Linked DNA regions of Homo sapiens: region 1 is linked to region 2. Evidence: fine-mapped expression QTL. A gene starts in region 2. The other region holds a variant in brackets. All regions are shown on one strand. Distances are from middle to middle.

Region 1 (4,394 bases), 40 kb after region 2:
TTTTACCTCTAACTCCATTATTAAAGCCTAAAGGAGCTTGAGAACTGAACCTGTAACCTGAGCTCTAGCTAGGTGTTGGGGGAGGGGAGAGGTAGGGGAAAGCTGGGGAAAGAGGTGATGTGAGGGCTGGGAGGGTCCTCAGTGGGAACCCCACCTTTAGGGCCTGAGAGACCAAGTGCAAGGAGGGGCCGCACTGGCCATTTAGAGACATTCTCTTCCATTATTTCTATAAGTGGGGACAGAAGACCAGAGAGCTAAAGTGAATTGTTTAATGTCACCCACCTGTTTCTGTAGAAAACAACCTTGGAGTTCAGTAATAGCACATTGGAGCGTCTATACTTTGGAATGCTCAGGATACACTAAGTTAAAAAAAAAAAAGCGGGTTACAAAATACATGCAGAATCCGATTCTGAGAAAGCTGGGGGAAATTGGAGTGGCTTTCTTCCTAGGAACTGCTTCAGCCTCAAACCCAGAGTGATCTTTCCTTTCTGTCCTCCAGGACTTCTGATTGCAAAAGATCACAAGGAGGAGAAATCTGCTGTAGGTTATCCCCTATAGGTAGGAGGAACCCAGAGAGGAATTCTAGTGGTGAAGAAATGGAAAAACTTTGTTAGATCTAGATTCAGGAAAAGGTTGACTTCTATCCAGAGATAGGCTAAAAATATACAATTTGATAGAATTCACTTAAGTTCCCTTGCTCATGTGAACTTTGATATATTTGCTATGAGACCCACCCTACTCTAAATTTAAGACTTGGGGACTTCAAGGAGTGTTTGTAAAAGACAAAATTCAAACAGCACAAGTTGGAGTTTACCGTCTTAGGATCCATTGCTCGATATTTTTTAGATTCAACTCAACTAATACTAGTGAATTTATATAGTTTATATATTTGTTGGGTTATAATTTCCAGATAACAAAATGTACAGATTTTAAGTGTATATTGTGAATTTTGAGAAATGTATACACTAGGTAAATATGACCTCATTCAAGATGGTCATTTTTATCTAAGTCCCCTGTCACACATGATTTAAGTCAAATTCGAAATTTAAACTATGTAATAATTTTGACTCAAACTTAATGTGTTTCTGAATTTGGTATATTTCTGCTTTGTTTTTCAAAGTTGAACCATATTTTCTTTCCAGTTATAAAATGACATATTTTTTATAACAAATTTAAACAACATAGAAGTATAGAAAGAATGGCTCTCATAATTCTATCCCCCAAAGAAACATAATTATTAACAGTCTGATGTATATCCATTGAGATTTTATATGTACACACACACGCACACATATATATGTCTACTTTTAAAAAAAATAGCATCATTCTATACACGATGCAAACTTTTTTTTTTTTTTTTTTTTGAGACAAAGTCTCACTCTGTTGCCCAGGCTGGAGTGCAGTGGGGTGATCTTGGCTCACTGCAATCTCTGCCTCCCGGACTGAAAGTGATTCTCCCACCTCACCCCCTGCAGGGAGCTGGGACTACAGGTGCATGCCACTGTGCCAGGCTAATTTATTTTGAATTTTTTTGTAGAGATGGATTTTTGCCATGTTGCCCAGGCTAGTCAGAAACTCCTGGGCTCGAGCAGGTCCACCTGCCTTGGGCTCCCAAAGTGCTGGGATTACAGGCATGAGCCATTGAGCCTGGCCCAAACTTTTTTTTTAACCAAATACTTAAATCTATACTACATAGATCTAATGCTATACAGACATCATTCCATACCAATACATATATATAATCTTCATTTTTGTGTCTAATAAATGCTTCATAATATGGACACTTTATAATTTATTTAACCAACCTCTCTCTG[A/G]TAACGGACTTTGAGGTTATTTCTAATTTTCCACTTTTGCAAACACTTTATAATGAACATCTAGATTGATTTGAGTTTCTGAATATTTTCATATGTTAAATTAATATTATATATTGCTAAATCCAGAGAAACTGTACCATTAACACTGTTTACTGAAGTCTGTAAGAGAGCATTTTTTACCCACACTTTCACATATACTGGAAACTCTTAAATCTCCATTAACCTGTTTGAGAAAAATTATATTTTGTTTTTATTATTATGTCTTTTTAAAAAATTAGTATTTTTGTTGGGCATCTTTTCAAATGTCAATTTGTGATGTGTATTTCCCCTTTTAATTTTCTTTGTCTGGTCTATTGAGTGTTTCTATTTTTAAAAGTTCATATCAGCCGGGCGTGGTGGCTCACGCCCGTAATCTCAGCACTTTGGGAGGCCGAGGCAGGTGGATCACCAGGTCAGGAGATCGAGACCATCCTGGCTAACACGGTGAAACCCCGTCTCTACTAAAAATGCAAAAAATTAGCCGGATGTGCATGTAGTCCCAGCTATTTGGGAGGTTGAGGCAGGAGAATCGTTTGAACCTGGGAGGCGGAGATTGAAGTGAGCTGAGATTGTGCCACTGTACTCTAGCCTGAGCAACAGAGTGAGACCCCGTCTCCAAAAAATAAAAAATAAAACAGTTTATATTCAGCATCTAGGCTTGGCACATAGTAGACAGTCATTACTAGCTACGTAACTATGTGCCACTTATGCATATTTGCAACATTTTCACAAGTACAGAGAATAATACATTGAACCCCCATATAGGCAACACCCAGATTCCATAACTATCAACACGAGGCCAATCTGGTTCATACCATTCTCACCTACTTCCCACCCTGACCCTGATTAATTTCTTTAGTGTTCTTTGTATGTAGGGATTTAAACTTTGTCATATGGTACAAATATTCCCTGCCCCCCTGCAGTTTCTCATTTGTCTTTCAGTATATTAATATTTTTGTGCCATACTGGTTTTAAACTTTCATATTGTCACATCTGTTAATCTTTTCTATAGGATTTCTGGATTTTGTGTAATTTTTAAAAAGATCCCCTCCTCCCCAACATCAAAGTTTATAAAAATATTGTCTTTGGGCTGGGCGCAGTGGCTTACGACTGTAATCCCAGCACTTTGGGAGGCCGAGGCAGGTGGATTACCTGAGGTCAGGAGTTCAAGACCAGCCTGGCCAACATGGTGAAACCCCCTCCCTCTCTACTAAAAATACAAAAATTAGCTAGGTGGGCCTGGTGGTGGGTGCCTGTAATCCCAGCTACTTGGGAGGCTGAGGCAGGAGAATTGCTTGAACCCAGGAGGCAGAGGTTGCAGTGAGCCGAGATTGCACCATTGCACTCCAGCCTGGATGACAGGGTGAGACTTCATTTAAAAAAAAAAAAAAAAAAAAAGGATTACATGCTTTTAAATGGTCTATTGTTCGATAAAGTTTAATATAAATTTAAAACTTTGTACAGGTACAGTGAGGATAAATTTTTTAAAATTTCCACTAAACTGCAAAAGTGGTTTAACCAACATAAAATTATTCCTGATGAAGGACATAAAATATCTGTAACCAGTTGTTAAAGTGAGAAGGTGGGTTCTAATCAGATGTGCTCAGTTACTTCCATCTTAGCATCTCTGTTGTAAATCCTTGGGCCTCAGTCTTCTTGTTTGAGGCCCAAAGGCATTTATTTGCACATTTGTTCCTATTATCCAGCAGGACTATTTAAGAACATTCTAAAACGGGTCCCAAATTGCTGAAGATTTATCATCCTGCTATTCCAGGGATTGTTGGTAATCTTCATCCTTTCCTAATTAGAAGAGGCCCCTGGGCTGCAACTACAGTCAGCAAGGTGCGTGGGTTAGACCGGAAGAAGGAGCAGGCTAAACTCAGGGCAGCGGAGTCTTCATGCTCATCAGGTTCTCACCTCTTGTCTCCCTCTGCAGGCACATCCTCATCTGCCTTGCTGCCTACCTGGGCTGTGTATGCTTTGCCTACTTTGATGCTGCCTCAGAGATTCCTGAGCAAGGCCCTGTCATCAAGTTCTGGCCCAATGAGAAATGGGCCTTCATTGGTGTCCCCTATGTGTCCCTCCTGTGTGCCAACAAGAAATCATCAGTCAAGATCACGTGATGGCAAGATGGTGGCTGGCTTCTCTGCTTATCGCCCCTCATGCAGTGGGCTTCCTTTGCTAGGAAGACAGCCAAGGGAGTTCGAATAGTTGGGGTGTGGGCTATCTTTTCAAAAATCTATTTGCTGGGGCTCTTAATTTCTTTAGTGTTCTTTGTATGTAGGGATTTAAACTTTGTCATATGGTACAAATATTCCCTGCCCCCCTGCAGTTTCCCATTTGTCTTTCAGTATGTTAATATTTTTGTGCCATACTGGTTTTAAACTTTCATGTTGTCACATCTGTTAATCTTTTCTTTAGGATTTCTGGATTTTGTGTAATTTTTAAAAAGGTCCCCTCCTCCTCCCTAATGTGTCTGTGGACCACCTGGATTCCACTGTACAAGGGGAAAAGTGTCTATTCCTTTCCCAAAGATGGAAA
Region 2 (4,394 bases):
AGAATGAAAATGAAAAGAAAGGGAGGAACCACACTTTGAGAATCTCTGGCATATAAAATAATGGTTTTTTAAAAATACCATTATATTTTGATGAATATGGATATATTTCCAAGTAAACTGTTGTTGGAAGAAGTAAAATATTGACTACAGGGAAAATTCTATTGCTGAACAGTTGGTGTAGCATTTTGAGACACAGAAATTAACTGATGTATCTTTCTTCTGTGGCTGTGGGAAACATCCACCCCAACCGCCCTTCGTTTTTGAGATGGAATCTCGCTCTGTCACCCAGGCTGGAGTGCAGTGGCGCGATCTCGGCTCACTGCAAGCTCCGCTTCCCGGGTTCACGCAATTCTCCTGCCTCAGCCTCCTGCGTAGCTGGGACTACAGGCGCCCGCCACGACGCCCGGGTAATTTTTTGTATTCTTTTTTTAAGTAGAGACGGGGTTTCACCATGTTAGCCAGGATGGTCTCCATCTCCTGACCTCGTGATCCGCCTGCCTCGGCCTCCCAAAGTGCTGGGATTACAGGCATGAGCCACCGCGCCCGGCCCTCAACCGCCTTTCTTAGGTGGCCAGCTCACTCCGGGTATCCTGTAGGTCTGGGTAAATCAACCCTAGGGGAAGGTAAGAGTGTATCTTCTACTTGGGTTCTGGAGGGCAGTGGAATTGCCCGTAAAGCAGGAGGAAGGGATAGAGGTTGGGACAAAGATGAAAGGAGGAGTGTGGTTTGGCCCCTGGGGGACAAACCTGGATTTTCTAGAGACTAGGAGAGGCGGCGGGGCTTGCAGTTTTTGTCAGTGATGGAGATCTCTGGGGACTTGCACATGGCTGTGTGGGTACTGGTGGGCAGACAAACACTTGGTGCAGAGGACACTGAAGCACCACCCAGGGTCCTGCTGGGCAGTCAGGCCCAGAGAGAGGGCAGACCCTGGGGAGTTGCTGGCCTTTAGGATACCCTGCGGGTCCGAGCAAGACGTCCTAATGACAGTCACCAATGGGCTGCTGCCCAGGGCCTCTTCTGCCGCTGTCCTGACCTAGAATCCTACAACCTTTCAAGGAAGGAGAACGGGAGCCACCACATACACACAGAGGGTGGCTTTCCTCTAGGGATCCTGGGAACCAGATTGGCTTTCATTTACAAACCGCAGAACAGTTACAGAAGCAAAAGAAGGTAGTTATGACTGGATCTGAGGACATCTTGCCTGAATTGAATTTCCAGCTCTGTCACTTGCTAATAGAAGCCCCTCACAGGGTCTCTGCTGGGCACACTAAATGAGTGATACATGGAAACTCTTCAGACAGCACCTGGCATGTGTATGTTATCTATCACCTCTTGAACCTCGATATCTTGGAGATGTCATAACTGCCACACTACATCCTCTGCAGTTTGGGATGGCTGACGTTTGACCCTTTGCCTAAGTCCCCATATCGAAGGCTAGATTAAGCCTTAACGCTGGAGCCAAGGGGAGGGAGGGCAGGAACGTACTCTAAATAGAAGTGCTCCCCCGGGGACTGGGCGGCCCAACCTGCTCCAGCAGCCGGGAAGGTCTTCCTGCCACAGTGACCGCAGCGAGTGGCGTCCGGCCTCGGAGGGACTGAGGGCACTTCTCTGGTGTAAGCACTGGCGTCCAACGCCGGACGCAGCAAAATCGCTGCAAACTCTGGGTCCAGAGAGGTCCAGGTCCTCCCGGGTTTCTTTTTATTTTAAATTTTTTTCCAGGGAGAGTTCTGGCGCTCCTTCAATCGGGGGAGGCTGCGAGTCTGAGCCAGGAGATGGGCGTGGGCAGGCGTGGGTAGCACCATCGAGGCCCTGGCCACCTGCCGGGTGCTGGGTAGTCTGGAAGAGTCTGGAGCCCGGTCTCCGCCTCCAGGCGCCCCACCCTGGACCCCTCCTCCACGCGGGTCCCGCCCCACGGTGGGCGTGGCTTCCAGGGGGAGGGGCCGGGGAGGGTCTGCGAACGAGTAACCTCCCGCAGGCGAGGCGAGGCGGGGCGGAGCGCGGGAGGCCAGTTGGGAGGCGCACATCCGGCGGTTACCCGGTGCTTCATAAAGCCGCTTTCGCCGCTGGCTGTCGCCGCGTTTTGCCTCCGCAGCAGCTCTGGGCTCTTCTCAGCTGCGCGAGCAGCTGCTCCAATGCCCCGGAGTGGCCATGGGCGCCCCGCACTGGTGGGACCAGCTGCAGGCTGGTAGCTCGGAGGTGGACTGGTGCGAGGACAACTACACCATCGTGCCTGCTATCGCCGAGTTCTACAACACGGTGCGGGGCGCGGGAGCGGGGAAGGCAGGCGGGCCAGCGGGAGGGGGCTGTTCCCGCGCCGCAGCGTCTGGAAGCTGGACGTGGGTCTCTGCGCGCATCTGGGGGCATTCTCTCCAGGGGCTGAGTCAGTCCACACCCCCTCCTCGGCGCGCTCCTTTCAGTTCTCCATCTGTCCTCCTCTCCTGTCCCCATTCCCGACAGCTGGGCTCATCTTCCTCCTGCTGTCATTTGTTTTGTGATGGTCCTATTGTCTTGTTTGGCCCCCACGCGTCCAGGAACCAGGGGTCTGTGTCAGCCCATTCTCCTTGTTTGGGTCAGCTGGGGGCGGTGAACCTGCCGGGACAAGTCTCTTCCTCCCCTGGGATCTCTGTGGCGTGACGCACTTGGGTCGCATTGTGCTTTTTTGCCCTGAATACCTGCTCTCGGAGTGCTGGGAAGAGCACGCCCCCCGCAGGTCCCCGCGGCTGGGGTCACTCCCACCAGGCAGACTTGCCCCACCCCCAAGAACATGCCTATAATGGTCGAGTTATTTTTGGTCAGAATCAAGTTAATTACTACTTGTTTTTTTTTCTTGCCTTTAGTGTCCTGTCTTGTGCAAGCCGCTAATTCAACTCCCCCAGGACTGTGCTTTCTCCAGTTCTGAAGTCTGAGGGATGAAAGGAAAGTTTGGGAGTGATAATGTGCGGGTTTTGGATTTGCCTAGGTCCCTAGATAAGGGTGAGCAGAAACTTCCCCATTGCAGAATCCTGTGTGATTTTAGTTCTTGTGGTAGGGAAGGGTTGCAGCTGGGAGAGGAAATGCCTCTTATTTTGTGTATGTCCATGGCTCAGAATCCTGGTACAGAATGTGAGACTTTGCGTGGTCATTTCTGTGGCTTATCTTTTCACCGCCCAAACAAGGGAAACAGGAACTCCTGGTTTGGGTCATTGTGAATTTGAGGTTGTTGTTTAGGACTTTTCCTTTTGGATTTGCTAGAGAGAATGTCTTCAGCAGGAGTCAGGTGCTTACTGCCTGCAGGAATCTCAGATGATCTAGTCCCTGTCCTTTTATTCATCTGATGAGAAAACTGGGCTCTTGAGGAGGGAGCTGTCATGCTCACATTTCTGGCATGGCTGGGGCCACAATCCAGAAGTCTGGGCCCTTCCTTCCCTCAGTGCTGAAATCCATGGCTGGCTTCCACACAAACACTCCTGCTCCTTTTTTTATGATTAGGTTGGTTCCTTAAGAAAACCTAAGGCTGGGCGTTGTGGCTCACACCTGTATTCCTAGCACTTTGGGAGGCCAAGGCAGGTGGATCGCTTGAATCCAGGAGTTCGAGACCAACCTGGGCAACATGGCGAAACCTCATCTCTACAAAAAAATACAAAAATTAGCTGGACATGTGGCACACACTTGTCGTCCCAGCTACTTGGGAAGCTGAGGTGGGAGGATCACCTGAGCCTGGGAGTTGAAGGCTGCAATGAACTGAGATCGCGCCACTCCACTCCAGCCTGGGCAACAGGGTCTCAAAGAAAACCTGGCCCTCTGCTGACCACAGATACTGTGAAAGACAGTGGAAGTGGCCATGACTTATGTATTGCATAACCTCCCAGAGCATGCTGTCAGGGGTAAATAGTTGCACACAGAGGATGGGCTGGAGTAGTTCTGGGTACTTTCAATAAGGAGAAACACCAGTGGTAACACAAGCTGTCCTTTTGTAAATAAAGAATATAGTGAAAGAGTAAGGATTTCACCAGAGTTCAAGAAGAAAAGACAGCTTGATGACAGGTTCTCACACACTTAGCAAGATTATTCTCTGTGCAGCCTGGGGTCTACAGAGAGGGTCAACCTTGGTTATTTTGGCCAAAAAAGCTAGTGTATGGCTTCTCTGAGTCTGTCTTGAAAAGTGTCATAGGGCTGGATGAAAGGGAGAGTTTGTCTTTACTTTTAATCTAGTCCCATTGGAGCCGTTACTCTATGTAGTGAGTGCTAAAGTCTTTTTCAGAAACTAACTGTTGATCTTCAGCTGCATTGTCTGGCTGATGAGCCCAGCTGGCCCATCTGACAAACTTTATTCCTTGGAATACTCATAAACCACAAAATTTGCTCTGGCAAAGCAGAGAGCGTAAGGTGTCAGAGAATAAGGTCATTGCCTAACT

The links. PIP is the estimated chance that this variant, and not a neighbour inherited with it, causes the effect. A credible set is the group of variants that fine-mapping cannot tell apart.
Region 1: its variant is the best candidate, but not a certain one, in a credible set for the expression of ACER2 in lymphoblastoid cells (GTEx, PIP 0.66).

The regions. Positions count from the first base shown.
Region 1 is chr9:19,446,661-19,451,054 of GRCh38, forward strand. ACER2 (alkaline ceramidase 2) reads left to right here. Exons shown (of 6, transcript NM_001010887.3): 6 at 3,790-4,394. The coding sequence ends at 3,976. Among named protein-coding and RNA genes, the nearest start is that of MAP1LC3BP1, 15 kb to the right of the region's middle. RefSeq lists enhancers at 1-598, 1-283. The variant A/G (reference allele first, on the strand shown) is at 1,815.
Region 2 is chr9:19,406,937-19,411,330 of GRCh38, forward strand. ACER2 (alkaline ceramidase 2) reads left to right here and starts at 2,073. Exons shown (of 6, transcript NM_001010887.3): 1 at 2,073-2,256. The coding sequence starts at 2,149. RefSeq lists enhancers at 1,043-1,900, 1,901-2,756, 2,169-2,318 and a silencer at 1,779-2,068.